Homo sapiens: one gene and its partners. The protein of the gene in region 4 purifies or fractionates together with the protein of the main gene of each other region. This does not show direct contact. Each region holds a gene or a part of one and is shown on either strand. Other genes may lie near its edges.

Region 1 (3,289 bases), on a different chromosome or scaffold from region 4:
TAGATAATATGATATAAGAGGGCTAAGAATTTTTAAATTGAATCATATATATGATATAATTTGATCCTTCTTGTATCTTGAAGTTTTGTACTTGGGATTTCTGGACTGATAAATGAATCATCACATTCTTCTGGTAAATATTTTCTTGGAGCTCTGTGTCAACTTTGATCCTTTGTCTCCCAGGAAGGTGTGACCTCTCCTTTGCCTGCATACCTCAAGGCCAGGGGAATATGCCTCAGTGATGCATTTATCTTTGTATATCAGGCCGCATGATTCCCAACTTTCTGCCACACTTAAATTACGTTCCTCCATTTCAGTTTTGTCTTTTCTGTCTAAAGTTCAGTCAAAGAGTATCAAAAAATTATGTTTCAGCTAGACTGGTGTAATGTATAAGTTTTTGTATCTTGTATTAGAGGATTTCGTAGCTTTTATTAGAGGCTCATTTCCACCTCAGCATACAAGATCGTTAGTCTTTTGGCATGTGTGCCAATTAGAATACTAAAGCAAGTCCAAGCACATTTTTCTCTTCTCACGTTTCTAATAAGTGTTAGGGACTTTGCCTCTTTTACTTACCACGTCCCCAAAAGTGTCAGGTAGACATGTCACAAATGGCTCTGTAGAGAGCCATGGGAAGAGAGAGGAGGTGGATGTGGAACATAAAGGGTTCAGAAACTCCAGAAGAGGAGTGGGTTTTGGATAGAAGCATTTGAGGACAGCTGCTCCAAAGCCTTATGTGTATGATGAAACTTAACCACGGGGAAGAGACTCTTCAGTAGCCTGTTCTGTCTGGTGATTTTTATTTTAAGTGAACCTTTGGATCTATCTTTAACTCTCTTTATTGTGAGTCTAAATTCCAATTCTGCAGCAGATCAGTAAACTCACAGTATTTTTCCTGTGGAAATCTATTCAATAAGGAAACCAAGACAGGATAATAAAATTTAAAAAAAAAACAACTTTGAATTCCCCTGCCTAGGTCTTCCAGTTGTTTTCCAGCGCATACCTCAGGTATGACTTTGCTAGCCGGGGACAAAATTAGCACCTTCCGATTCTCTAGTCCAAATGAACTTTGTGCTAAATAAAAAATTATTATACTACATAATAAAGTTACAGATAGCAGGAAATGCAAGAGCTAGGAGATTCCTAGATTATATCTGCCAAGCAAATACCTTAAACATCCACCTGAAATCCTACTACCCCCTCTTCTGAGATAATTTGCCCAGCCCTTCTCTTCCCACACACTCACTCAATGTCACCCCCTTCTAATCCCCAAAACTGTTTTTGTGGTCTTTGTAGCCTATAGTAGTTTTCTCACATCTTTCCCCCTAGACTTTTCTGTTTTTCAGTTTCAGACAAAAAAACTCTTCAGCTTTTTCCAGTGTGTCTCCTTAACAGTAACTTTACCACTTGAAATCTTATTTCATAGAAAAACTAAATTGGTGTGGAAAGGCTGCACACAATAAAGTTATATTATTATCCATGAAAATGAACTCATATTTCTTTCATACTTTAACGTTAAAACCGAAATGCATGAGAGCAAAAGCACCATGGTGTTCTTTCTATTTAGGGCCTACCTCTAATATTTAAAATCTACCAAAGAGCAGTCACAAAATTAAAACTCAGCCCGGGCGCAGTGGCTCATGCCTGTAATCCCAGCACTTTGGGAGGCCAAGGCAGGAGGATCACCTGAGGTCAGAGTTCAAGACCAGCATGGTCAACATGGTGAAACCCTGTCTCTACAAAAATACAAAAAGCTGGGCATGATGTTGGGTTCCTGTAGTCCCAGCTACTTAGGAGGCTGAGGCAGGAGAATAGCTTGAACCCGGGAGGTGGAGGTTGCAGTGAGCTGAGATCATGCCATTGCACTCCAGCCTGGACGACAGAGTGAGATTCAGTCTCAAAAAAAATTAATACTCAAAGAATTATCTAGCATAATTTAAAAGAAAGGACTTTTTAAAAATTCTCTAGCATAATTCAAAAGAAAGGACTTAACTTTTTTTTTTTTAGTGTGGTCATCCGTCTAGTTGTTCTTTTTTTCCAGATCAGAGCAGAGAATATCACTGACATGCTTGAAATGGTGGATAACTATGTAAATTGTAATTGGACAAATGTACACTTTAGATTTATGGACTGAGCCACATATAATAAGGTCTCTCCTGGTAATTGATCCAGGGGATTTAGGCCTCTTTCGGGTTTTTTGTTTTTTTTTTAGGCATTGTTATGTTGTGAAGGATAAAATCTTCAACATCTTATGCAAATGGATAGTAGGCATGATCCTAAAGGTTTAGTTTTACGATGCTGCAGAGAAGAGAAATGTCTTGACGTTTTGCCACCTGATGTAGACTTTGTCCCCCTCTAGTATAAATGTTGCATGTTACCTAGATAAACAACTAAAAATTGCCTTGAGTTATCACCTGAGCTACTTATGCCAAGGTCTTGCCTTTCTAAAGCTAATAAGGTGAGAGGTGGATATCTGTAGCTCTTCGGATGAAAAATTGCATTGTGGGAGATACCAAAATTGAGGAAATAGCTCTTCAAAGAAAAATTACTGATATGATCATTGTACTTGTAAATGCCTTAAGTAGCAGGCAGTGACTCAATTTTCTACTTTACCATTTTACCTTTAGCTTTTATGTATGAATTATAGGTCTGTGGAGATTCTGCCTCCCCACTAGGCCAGTGTGTGTTTACCATTTATTCATTTTCTATCATACACAGGTGGATTAAAATTTACATTAAAATTTACATTAAAATACCATCATACTTCAGGCTTCTATAACAAAATATCAGACTGGGTGGCTTCAAAAGCAGACATTTCTTACAGTTCTGGAAGCTGGGAAGTCCCACAATCCACATGCTGGTAAATTTGGTTCGTGGTGAGGCCCCTCTTCCTCTTTTACTGACCACATCCCCAAAAGTGTCAGGTAGACATGTTACAAATAGCTCTGTAGAGAGCCATGGGAAGAGACAGGAGGCAGATGTGGAACATAAAGGGTTTAGAAACTTCTGCAGGCAGCAGTGGCAGGGAGCAAGCCCTAGAGTGTCTCTTTTTACGAGAGCAGGAATCCCATCATGAGAGTTCCTTCCTCATGACTTTATCTAAACCCAGTCACCCCCAACAAAGGCCCCACCCCCTAACCCCATCACATTGGCTGTTACGGCTTCAATGTAGGGGATGGGGCACAAACATTCAGTCCATAACGAATACTGATTCCTCAAATAGGGTTTAAACATAGTTAACTGAGCCCCCAAAGAATGTTAAAAGAGAAAATCCATTTTATTTGAATAGATG
Region 2 (3,500 bases), on a different chromosome or scaffold from region 4:
TATGTGTTAAATGTGGTTGAACAACAAAAGGTAGGGTTGAAACAAGGTGTCCTAATGGTGCTTTGGCTGTGTCATACTCCCTTCTGGGGTGGGAGAAGGGAGGATGTTATCAATGACAATGGGGCAGCAAGCTCCACGATCCAGCCAAAAAACAAGGCGACGTGGCGATGGCTGCTGAATCTAGGGGTCCCCAGAGCTGAAATAAATGGTGTTAACAATGAGGGTAGAGAACTGTGGGTAGACTAAAAGCGTCAGAAACTTGTCTGTTGAGCCCAGTGGCAGAGGTCACTTGAAATAAAGTAAATACAAAGCCTTGCTTACTGGCACTGAGTGGCTCTCTCCCTCCAGTCCCCAATCCTCCCCTGCCTCTCCTCCAACTCCCTCTGCTTTAGGGAAGTATGCTGGGGAACTTCAGGGCAGGGAAGGACTCAAAATTTTATGGCTCTGTTGGACTGGACACGAGTGCCAAAGTCTACTTGGTCTCAGGGAAGGCAAGTATGCTAAGCACTGGGGTGGCCCAGAGCTCCAAAGACTGCAAGGCCATGCAGTGGCTCCAGCAAAGGCTGAAATAATGATGGCTCTGAGTGGCCATTCTCTCCAGAGGCCAGAGAACACAGGACAGGAAGCAGCACCCATTCTGGGACGAGGAGCCAAAGGACAAAAAGCCCTCCCTGCCCCTCTCCCCTAGCTGGAGACAGCATAATCTCTTGAAACTATTACGACCACCCTTGAAGTACCTATGTTAAACTCTTTTGTCTCTGTTCTTTTATTGTTATTGTTTTGGTTTTTTGAGATAGGGTCTCGCTCTGTCAACCAGGCTGGAGTACAGTGGTATGATCACAGCTCACTGCAGCCTTGACCTTCCTGGGCTCAAGCAATCCTCCCACCTCAGCGTCCTGTGTAGCTGGGACTATAGTTGTGTAACACCATGCCTGGCTAATTTTTTAAATTTTTTAAATGGAGATGAAGTCTCACTATGTTGCCCAGGGTGGTCTTGAATTCTTGGGCTCAAGCAATCATCCTGCCATGGTCTCCCAGTGTGCTGGGATTACAGGTGTGAGTCATCATGCTTGATCACATGTATATTGTGACTAGGTGGGGGAAAGTAACTGAATTCAACTGATAGAGTGTAAGCAAACTTCACAATGAGTAAAAAAAAATTAAAGGGACCTTTATAGCCAATTCAAGATACTGTGATGTGTGTCAACACTCTCCCTACCCACTACATACAAATGTACAATGACATTGATGTATTACATGCTTGTATTATAAAACTCACAGTGACCAAAACAGACTCCCCAGTCAGGGATTCCCAGACCCCTTCTAGGTGGTCTAATAGAAACATAGAAGCCCAGGGAGGAAAAGAAAATCACTATGAAGCTCCAGTGAGGCCACTGCCCAGTGCAGCAGCACCACCTGCTTGGCACAGGCACCAAATACATCCTGTATTAGTTTGCTGGGGCTGCCATAACAAAGGACCACAAACTGGACGGCTTAAGCAACAGAAATTTATTGTCTCTGTTCTGAAGGGGAGAAATCTAAAATCAAGGTGTCTGCAAGGTTTGTTCCTTACTAAGGCTGTGAGAGAAGCATCTGTTCCAGGCCCCTTCCTTGGCTTGTAAACAGCTGTCTTCATATTCACATTGTATGGTCCCGGTATGCATAGTCCAGTATGAATTGTATGGTCTTGTATCCAAATTTCTTCTTCTCATAAAGCCATCAGTCACACTGAATTGGGGCCCATTCTAACGACCTCATTTTAACTTGATTACCTCTGTAAAGACCCTATCTCCAAACAAGATCACATTCTGAAGTACTATAGGTTAAGGCTTCAACATATGAATTTGGAGACAGGAGACACATTTCAACCCATAACACACCCCTTTCAAAAAGGGGACGCAATCGTTGGTCTGCTGCTGAGCTCTTGTTAAAAATGAACCCATGGAGGCTTGTAACTCCCAGGTCTGACATCTCCATTTTGGGGTGGGTCAACCAGGACACAACAACTACGAGGAGAGTAGCTCCCACCCTCTCCCCCTGCCACAACCCACCCCTTGCTCATGGCCCACTGTAAAAGCAGTAGGCTCCCTAAGCTCAACGCTGCTCAACTGTGACACAAATCCACTGAGTGCATAGCACTCATTTCGCCCGTGCCCATCTTTGTCACCTCGGTGAGTTTTGGAGGACATGGGGAATTAACACCACCACGCTCATGCTGTTTGCTGTGCTGTGAGTAATAAAGTCCTCTGACTCTGATGTAGTTGTCTCCAGTCTTCTGTAATAGGCTAACACGTTAGCTTGCAAGTAGGGTAAAATCCCAGACCCTTCACAGACCCTGACTTCATGGGGACCAACATAAGAGTAAAAACCCTGTAGTTTCCAAAGGTCTTTGACAAGGACGTGCTAAGCATCGGATAGCTGGCTGATTTGTAAACCTAATACTTGGTCTCGCCTAGGTCACTGCTCTGTTACAATAATTCAGTTGTCCATTCTTTCAATTGTTTCATTGTCCCCAAAGAGATATTTATTCTGCATAAGACACTCTTGTCAGTCATTAAAAACAATAATAGTAACAACAGCAACAAATATTTATGAGGTGAGAAGCATTTTTCTAAAAACTTGAGGCATTGTTCTATATATTTCATCTTTAATCTTTAAAACATCCCTTTGAAGGGGATATTATTACCTCCAGTGTACAGATCAGGAGACTGAGGCACAAGTCACACAGTTAGTCAAGGGTGGGACTGGGATTCAAACTCAGGCAGTCTGGCTTTAGTCTTCATTTTTAACCACTAGCTACATGCCTTACCAGAGGACTTTCTACTCCCAGAGCCATAATGGGCCACAGAGGCCTAGACATCTTTGTCTGAAATCTTAGGAAAATAATTCGGGTCAAACTTTTAAGACTTGATTTTTTGACTTGCAACATTTTAAAATGTTTTTTACAACCTGTATTAGGCAATTAGATAATCTTCTGCAGTGCTTTGATCTTTTCTATCCAGCCACGTCTAAATCCAATGTTAAGGTTTCACACTCCATGTTAGTTTCCTATTGCTGCAGTAACAAATTATACGAAGTCTGTGGCTTAAAACAACACCAATCTATTATCTTACAGTTCTAAGTTCAGAAGTCCAAAATGGGCTGGCAGGACTGCATCCCTGTAGAGGCTCTAAAGAATAATCTGTTTCCGTGCCTTTTCCAGCCTCTAGGGGCTTCCTGAATTCCTTGACTCATGATCCTTAAACAATCTTCAAAGCCAGCAGTGTAGCATCTTCAAATCTCTCTTATACTGACTCTCATGCTTCCTTCTTTCTCTTATAAAGACCCTTGTGGGCCAGGCACACATACCTGTAATTCCAGCAATTTGGGAGGCTGAGGCCAGTAGATCATTTGAGGCCAGGAGTTCGAGACCAGCCTGGCCAACATGGTGAAACCTTGTCTCTATTAAAAATACAAAAATTAGCCGGGAGTGGTGGTGCATGCCTGCAATCCCAGCTACT
Region 3 (3,500 bases), on a different chromosome or scaffold from region 4:
GCATACCATAGAATGTCAGTTAATAAATTTGCGAGAATGAAAGAGTTATACAAATCATTTTGCACACATCACCATAATTGATTCAGGCAAGAGTCATCACTAGCTAAAACTAGTGAGTGAATGTTTTATGAGGAATAGGGTATTTACATAATCTAAAAGTATCTCCTCATACATTATTTATTAATCACAAAGTAAGAAATAACTTTACAGTGAAGAAACATCCCATTACCCAAGTGATCAAGTTTAGTATTGCTAGTAATGGGACTTAGTGAAACGCTGTACTCCTGGTGTGATGCACTGAGCAGGATAAAATATCAGGCATACCCCAATTGAGAGACATTCTGTGAAACAGCTGACTTCTACTTTACAAAAGTGTTAGTGTCATAAAAGACAAAGGCTGAGAAACTATCTGTTCCAGATTAATAGATTAAAGAGTCATGCAAACAAAATGTGTAGTATGATCTTAGATTAGATCCTAGACCAGAAAAAAGTTGCTAAAAAGGATGTTATTGGGAGAATTGGCAACATTCGAGGTCTGTTATCTAATATACAAATTAGATAATTGTGTATTTTCAGTATTAAATTTCCTGATTTTTAAAATTGTTCTGTGATATGTAAGTAAATATCTTTGCTCTTAGGAAGTCATATCCTGAAGTGTTTAGGAGTAAAATGGTGTGCCTGTGACTTTTAAAAAGTTTAGGGAAAAGAGAAGAGAGTGATAAAGCAAATAGAACAAAATGTTAACAATTGGTAAATCTGAGTGAAGGATATAAAGGAAGGAGTTCTTTGTGCTGTTCTTACAAATGCTAAGCTTTTAATTAATTCAGAATTTTAAAATTATATATTAAATATTATATAGATATTTAAATAAAATATTAAAAGATATATTAAAATAGTTTATCAGTGAAATGATACTCAAACATGTTCAAGCTAGCCTTAAAGAGTTTCAAAAGAGACCTATCAGCTCTCCTCACCCTAGTTAGTGTCATAATGATCAGTCATGTGAGGTCAGTCAAGATCAGCTTCCTGAAGAGTATACTTTGAGTAATAGTCTTGTTTCTTGTTTTTATTTTAAAGACTTGCTGGTCTTAGGTATTCTCTTTCAGATTCTGGGCTTCTAAGGTCATATCATTAGTTTTCCATGTCTCTTATTAATTTATAGGACCTATGCATGTTCACACTGGCAAATCTTTAATTCAGTAAGTCATCCGTTCAGCAAATTTTCAAGTACCTGTCATGTGGGAGGAAGGTATACAGAATTGTAAATGGCATGCTCCAAACTTATATTCTTGATTACTTTCTTCCTCTCCTGTATTTCACATCCTGGCAGTCATCTCTCACTCTTAATTACTTTGAACCAACAACTTTTATTAATTCTCTTTTTTTAAAATAACTTTTACTTAGACATACCGAAGCTCTGAACACCTGCAGTATTGCAGAGGCCTCTAATGGGTTTCTCTGCCTCCAATTGCGTTGGCTACCAGTCTATCTGGAGTACAGAAACCATGACAGAGAAAGTATACGTTGTTACTTTCCTAATCCTCGGAACCATAAAAAAAGGAATAACATTAAAAGAACAGAAAAGGAAACTTCATTTATACTGAAATTAGGGAATGTTCACAGTCCTGTATCAAGGAATTTTTCAAATAATATCTGCAAGATAAAGTGAAATTTGGACCAAATTATAAAGGATGTTAATTTGACATGTCTCCTCTTATCAAAGCATGGGACAGGGTACTAGAATTAGTAAGGAAGTTCAGACCTACCGGTAGTAGACCACAGGAGAAATTTCTGGTGTTTAACTTGGAGCTTATCCCTTTATCTTGCAATAGTAGGAAAGGCAGGGTGGTTATAGTTGTTAAAAGCACATATTTCATGTCAGATCTGGCCTTGGATCTTTGCTTTGATACTTACTTGCATGTGGTCCTGGGAAAATGACCTAACTTCTTTAAAGTTCAGTTTTATCTGTGATATTTGGATAGTAGTAGTGTTTACCTCACCGAGTTGCTAGTATCATCGTTAGCTTGGTAGTTAGCACATAGGAAATGTTCAGTAAATATTAGCTACTATTACTCCTTTGGAGGCTAACATAAGAATGAAGACCAGTGTTTTTTGTATTCTTTGGTGCATGTACTCATAAACCTATGATTTCTAAGATTCTTTTTTACTTCTCCTTTCTTATCTACAGAAGCCCAAAAGTCAGGTGCCTCTTTATTAATTTTAAAGCACAATTTTTGTAGTCTTCTAAGTCGATGCTTTTGAGTTCATGAGTTCATGTTATGTTAGGAGTTGTGAAATTAGATACTTACATTAAACACGGTTTAGTCTTGATGCTTTTTTTTCGCTCATGGCATTAAAGTCATAACTGGCAAACTATCTTTCCTTGAAATTAAACTTGAAAAATTTTTAAATTATGCAATTATATGTGCATAATGATAAAAATGCTAAATCTTAAAACATGATTGTGGAAATATATGACATTGTAATGAAATTCAAACAGTACAAAGCAGCATGAAAAGGTAAAGTCTCACTTATACTCCTTATCCCACTGTCCAGTTTTTATTTGTTTTGGCACTTATTTCTATATCTCAGAATAATGAGCACTAAAATATATTTTTAACTTGTGACCTGTCGCTTATTAACAGTTACTTTATCTCTATAAAATTATGAAATTTATTGTTTATTTCTTGCACTGCACTATACTCTGCTAGTCATATATACTTAATTTTAGTTCTTCCGTTGGTAAACTTTGCATCATATACTTTACATAATATACTTGAACCTCTAATCTTGATCTACCATTTATACTTGTCAAGGTTTGTAGCATTTACATTTATGTTTGCTAACGATAATGTAGTCTGAGTTTTGCCTGTAGCAGAGTTTGTAAACTGAGGCCTCTTATGGCAAGTCCAGCCCATAGAGGTATTTTATTTGGCTCACATGGTATATATATATATATTTTTAAGTTTTTCATAGAGATAGGGTCTTGCTCTGTCTGCTAGGCTGGAGTGCAGTGACAAGATCGTAGCTCACTGTAACCTTTATCTTCTGGGCTTTCGAGATCTTCCCACTTCAGCCTACCAAGTAGCTACGACTACAGGCATGCACCACCATGCCCAGCTAATTTTTAAGTTTCTTTTTTGTAGAGGTGGGGGTCTCACTATGTTGCCCCAGCTGGCCTTAAATTCCTGGCCTCAAGTAGTCCTCCCACCTCCACCCCTCAAAGGGCTGGAATTAAAGGCGTGAGCCACCACACCTGACTGTATGTTATTTTTTAATTAGTTTATAATGTTTAATAATTGGGAGATTTCACATAAATCCAGATTTTAGCTTCTCTTAAATCAGATGACTCCGTAACAATTGGCATATACTCCCATAGGCAGCCAGTTTACTAGACAAGAGTATCAACCTTCTCCTTAGATTGAACACACATCTTCAAATCACTGTAGTCTTTACCTGCCCCATTTTACTCACTTACATTTCCTGTCTAGCCCTTGTTG
Region 4 (2,051 bases):
TGGGTCTTACTAGCTGGCTGTATAAACCTATTCTTATGTTTAGTAAACAAGTCTGAGTCTTTCTAATGCTTCTTAATTTTTTATACCATTTGAATTTATCATTATTTACTAATAACTTTTATTTAGATCTAGATATGCTAGAAATTAAGAGGTTCAAGATTCATCAAAATCTTAAATAAAAAGAGGCATATACTGTGAAAAGTAGACTAATCTTCAAAACTCAGCTGTGATTGTTACACGAATATAAGACCAGAATTTTAAGATTATTGGGAAGCATCAAGAAAAGAAATATGCAATGGAATTGAGAGTCAGCATTTAAACAAATAGACAAATAAATAAACAGAAGCCATGTGTGCCATTTCAAATTGAGACAATTTATTGCAAAGGGAACTAAGCAATTACACAGTTAGGAAAGTATAGGTAGTGGATGCCAGTAGACACGATATAGGCAATTATAACATAATGAATATTCCTAACATCTTAGATGCTATTTTTTTTCATCTTGGATTGATCTAGTGTGCCCTTGTTTGACTCAATATTTGGTTAAATTGAATGATCTTCTTATGACCTCTGATATCGTGTCCTCAGGGTAGGATTTCAGTAGAATTGAGAATCCATATCCTCCATAGCATGATGGGCGGCAGTAGCCATATCCGTTGCCTCCAAAGCCACAGCCATAACCCAGTCTGCGGAAGCTGCCACATCCACAGCCATAGCCATAGCCTAGGCCACCAAAGCCTCCACAGCCATAGCCCAGGCCTCTGTAATAGCTGCCATAGTAGCTCATGGCGTCAGGAGTGGTGAGTTGTTTGGCTGCTCAAGGCAAGATCCTAAGTGTGAATGGCAGCACGTGTAGAGGGAGGCTTATATACCCTGATAAGAGTATGTGATGAGTCACATGCGTACCTGTTTTTTTTGTTTTTTTGTTTGTTTGTTGTGTGTGTGTCTGTGTGTGTGTTTTAAATTAGTTACTTAACACAAGTCATTCATTTTTCCCTGGCACAAGGAGAGGCCCTCACAATCGTTAAATTGTTTGAGTTTGCTTTGTTGCTGAATTGGAGTGGCCCTTAAAAGTTATCACACCACTTAATGAGAAGAAATTGCTGTATCTAAAGTCTTGGCATACCAGATCCTAAATAGATTTCTTCATAGCTAGACATATTGCATATTACAAATGAAATAAAATGAAGGTTATATGTTCCTCTAAAGTCAGATGCTATTGGAGCTCATTTCTTTGTCTTCTTTATTTTGCCCAGACTGGTCTCAAGCTACTGGGCTCAAGTGACCCTCCTCCCTCGACCCCCAAAGTGCTGAGATTAGAGGCATAAGCCACCTCACCCAGCCTTCATTTCATCTTTAAATCCCTATTGTTCAGATGTAGCCAGAGAATTACTCATGCCTTTGAGAGGCATAGACTTTAGAATTTATTCATCCTTTCAGCATTTATGTATTGTGTTGTTACTACAAGGTAATTATTGCAAAGAGGCATGCAAATTCAGTTGTGAAAGCACAACATTTGGAAATTACTTATAAGACTAAAAATAACTGATCACTGTATTTGAGATCATATAAGGTTAAAAAGAACTTAAAAGCTCAAAGTTGAAATTAAGGGCACAGCTGAATTAACAATATTTGGGGTCACCTGTGGCTGTATGTGACTAAATTCTTGGAGTCAACTGAGGACTTGCACCCTCAGTTATTTCTTCTGCCTGTTATCTTGTAATATTATACCTACATTTTGGAGATTCTGAAAACATTTCTAATGTTAATGGTATCTTATTGAATTTCAAAGAGCCCTTATATTTAAATTATCTTTTTATATATCCTATACCTTAATAAACATTTAACAACTTAGTGGACTAGCATGGTATTTCCTGAGAAGAAAAAGGTGTATGTGTGTGTGTGTGTGTGTGTGTGTGTGTGTGTGTGTGTGTGTGTGTGATGAATTTGATGAATTTTTGCATATGTGCTTACACTACCTACACCAAGCACACTCTAATCTCCAAAATGTTTCCATTGTTCCATTATGGCAAATATCATTCCCTAGAGAT

Evidence for each region. The genes of interacting proteins can lie anywhere in the genome.
Region 1: the proteins of KRTAP19-4 (region 4) and NLN purify together in Homo sapiens (affinity purification with mass spectrometry; one large-scale study listed by BioGRID and IntAct). This does not show direct contact.
Region 2: the proteins of KRTAP19-4 (region 4) and PLGRKT purify together in Homo sapiens (affinity purification with mass spectrometry; one large-scale study listed by BioGRID and IntAct). This does not show direct contact.
Region 3: the proteins of KRTAP19-4 (region 4) and EXOG purify together in Homo sapiens (affinity purification with mass spectrometry; one large-scale study listed by BioGRID and IntAct). This does not show direct contact.

What each region holds. Positions count from the first base shown.
Region 1 is NC_000005.10:65,823,205-65,826,493, forward strand, and holds part of NLN (neurolysin, mitochondrial), read left to right. Parts: 3' UTR 1-3,289. UniProt on the Homo sapiens protein: Hydrolyzes oligopeptides such as neurotensin, bradykinin and dynorphin A. Acts as a regulator of cannabinoid signaling pathway by mediating degradation of hemopressin, an antagonist peptide of the cannabinoid receptor CNR1.
Region 2 is NC_000009.12:5,427,926-5,431,425, forward strand, and holds part of PLGRKT (plasminogen receptor (KT)), read right to left. Parts: intron 1-3,500. UniProt on the Homo sapiens protein: Receptor for plasminogen. Regulates urokinase plasminogen activator-dependent and stimulates tissue-type plasminogen activator-dependent cell surface plasminogen activation.
Region 3 is NC_000003.12:38,509,840-38,513,339, forward strand, and holds part of EXOG (nuclease EXOG, mitochondrial isoform 1 precursor), read left to right. Parts: intron 1-3,500. UniProt on the Homo sapiens protein: Endo/exonuclease with nicking activity towards supercoiled DNA, a preference for single-stranded DNA and 5'-3' exonuclease activity.
Region 4 is NC_000021.9:30,496,324-30,498,374, forward strand, and holds KRTAP19-4 (keratin-associated protein 19-4), read right to left. Parts: upstream 843-2,051; 5' UTR 788-842; coding exon 533-787; 3' UTR 501-532; downstream 1-500. UniProt on the Homo sapiens protein: In the hair cortex, hair keratin intermediate filaments are embedded in an interfilamentous matrix, consisting of hair keratin-associated proteins (KRTAP), which are essential for the formation of a rigid and resistant hair shaft through their extensive disulfide bond cross-linking with abundant cysteine residues of hair keratins.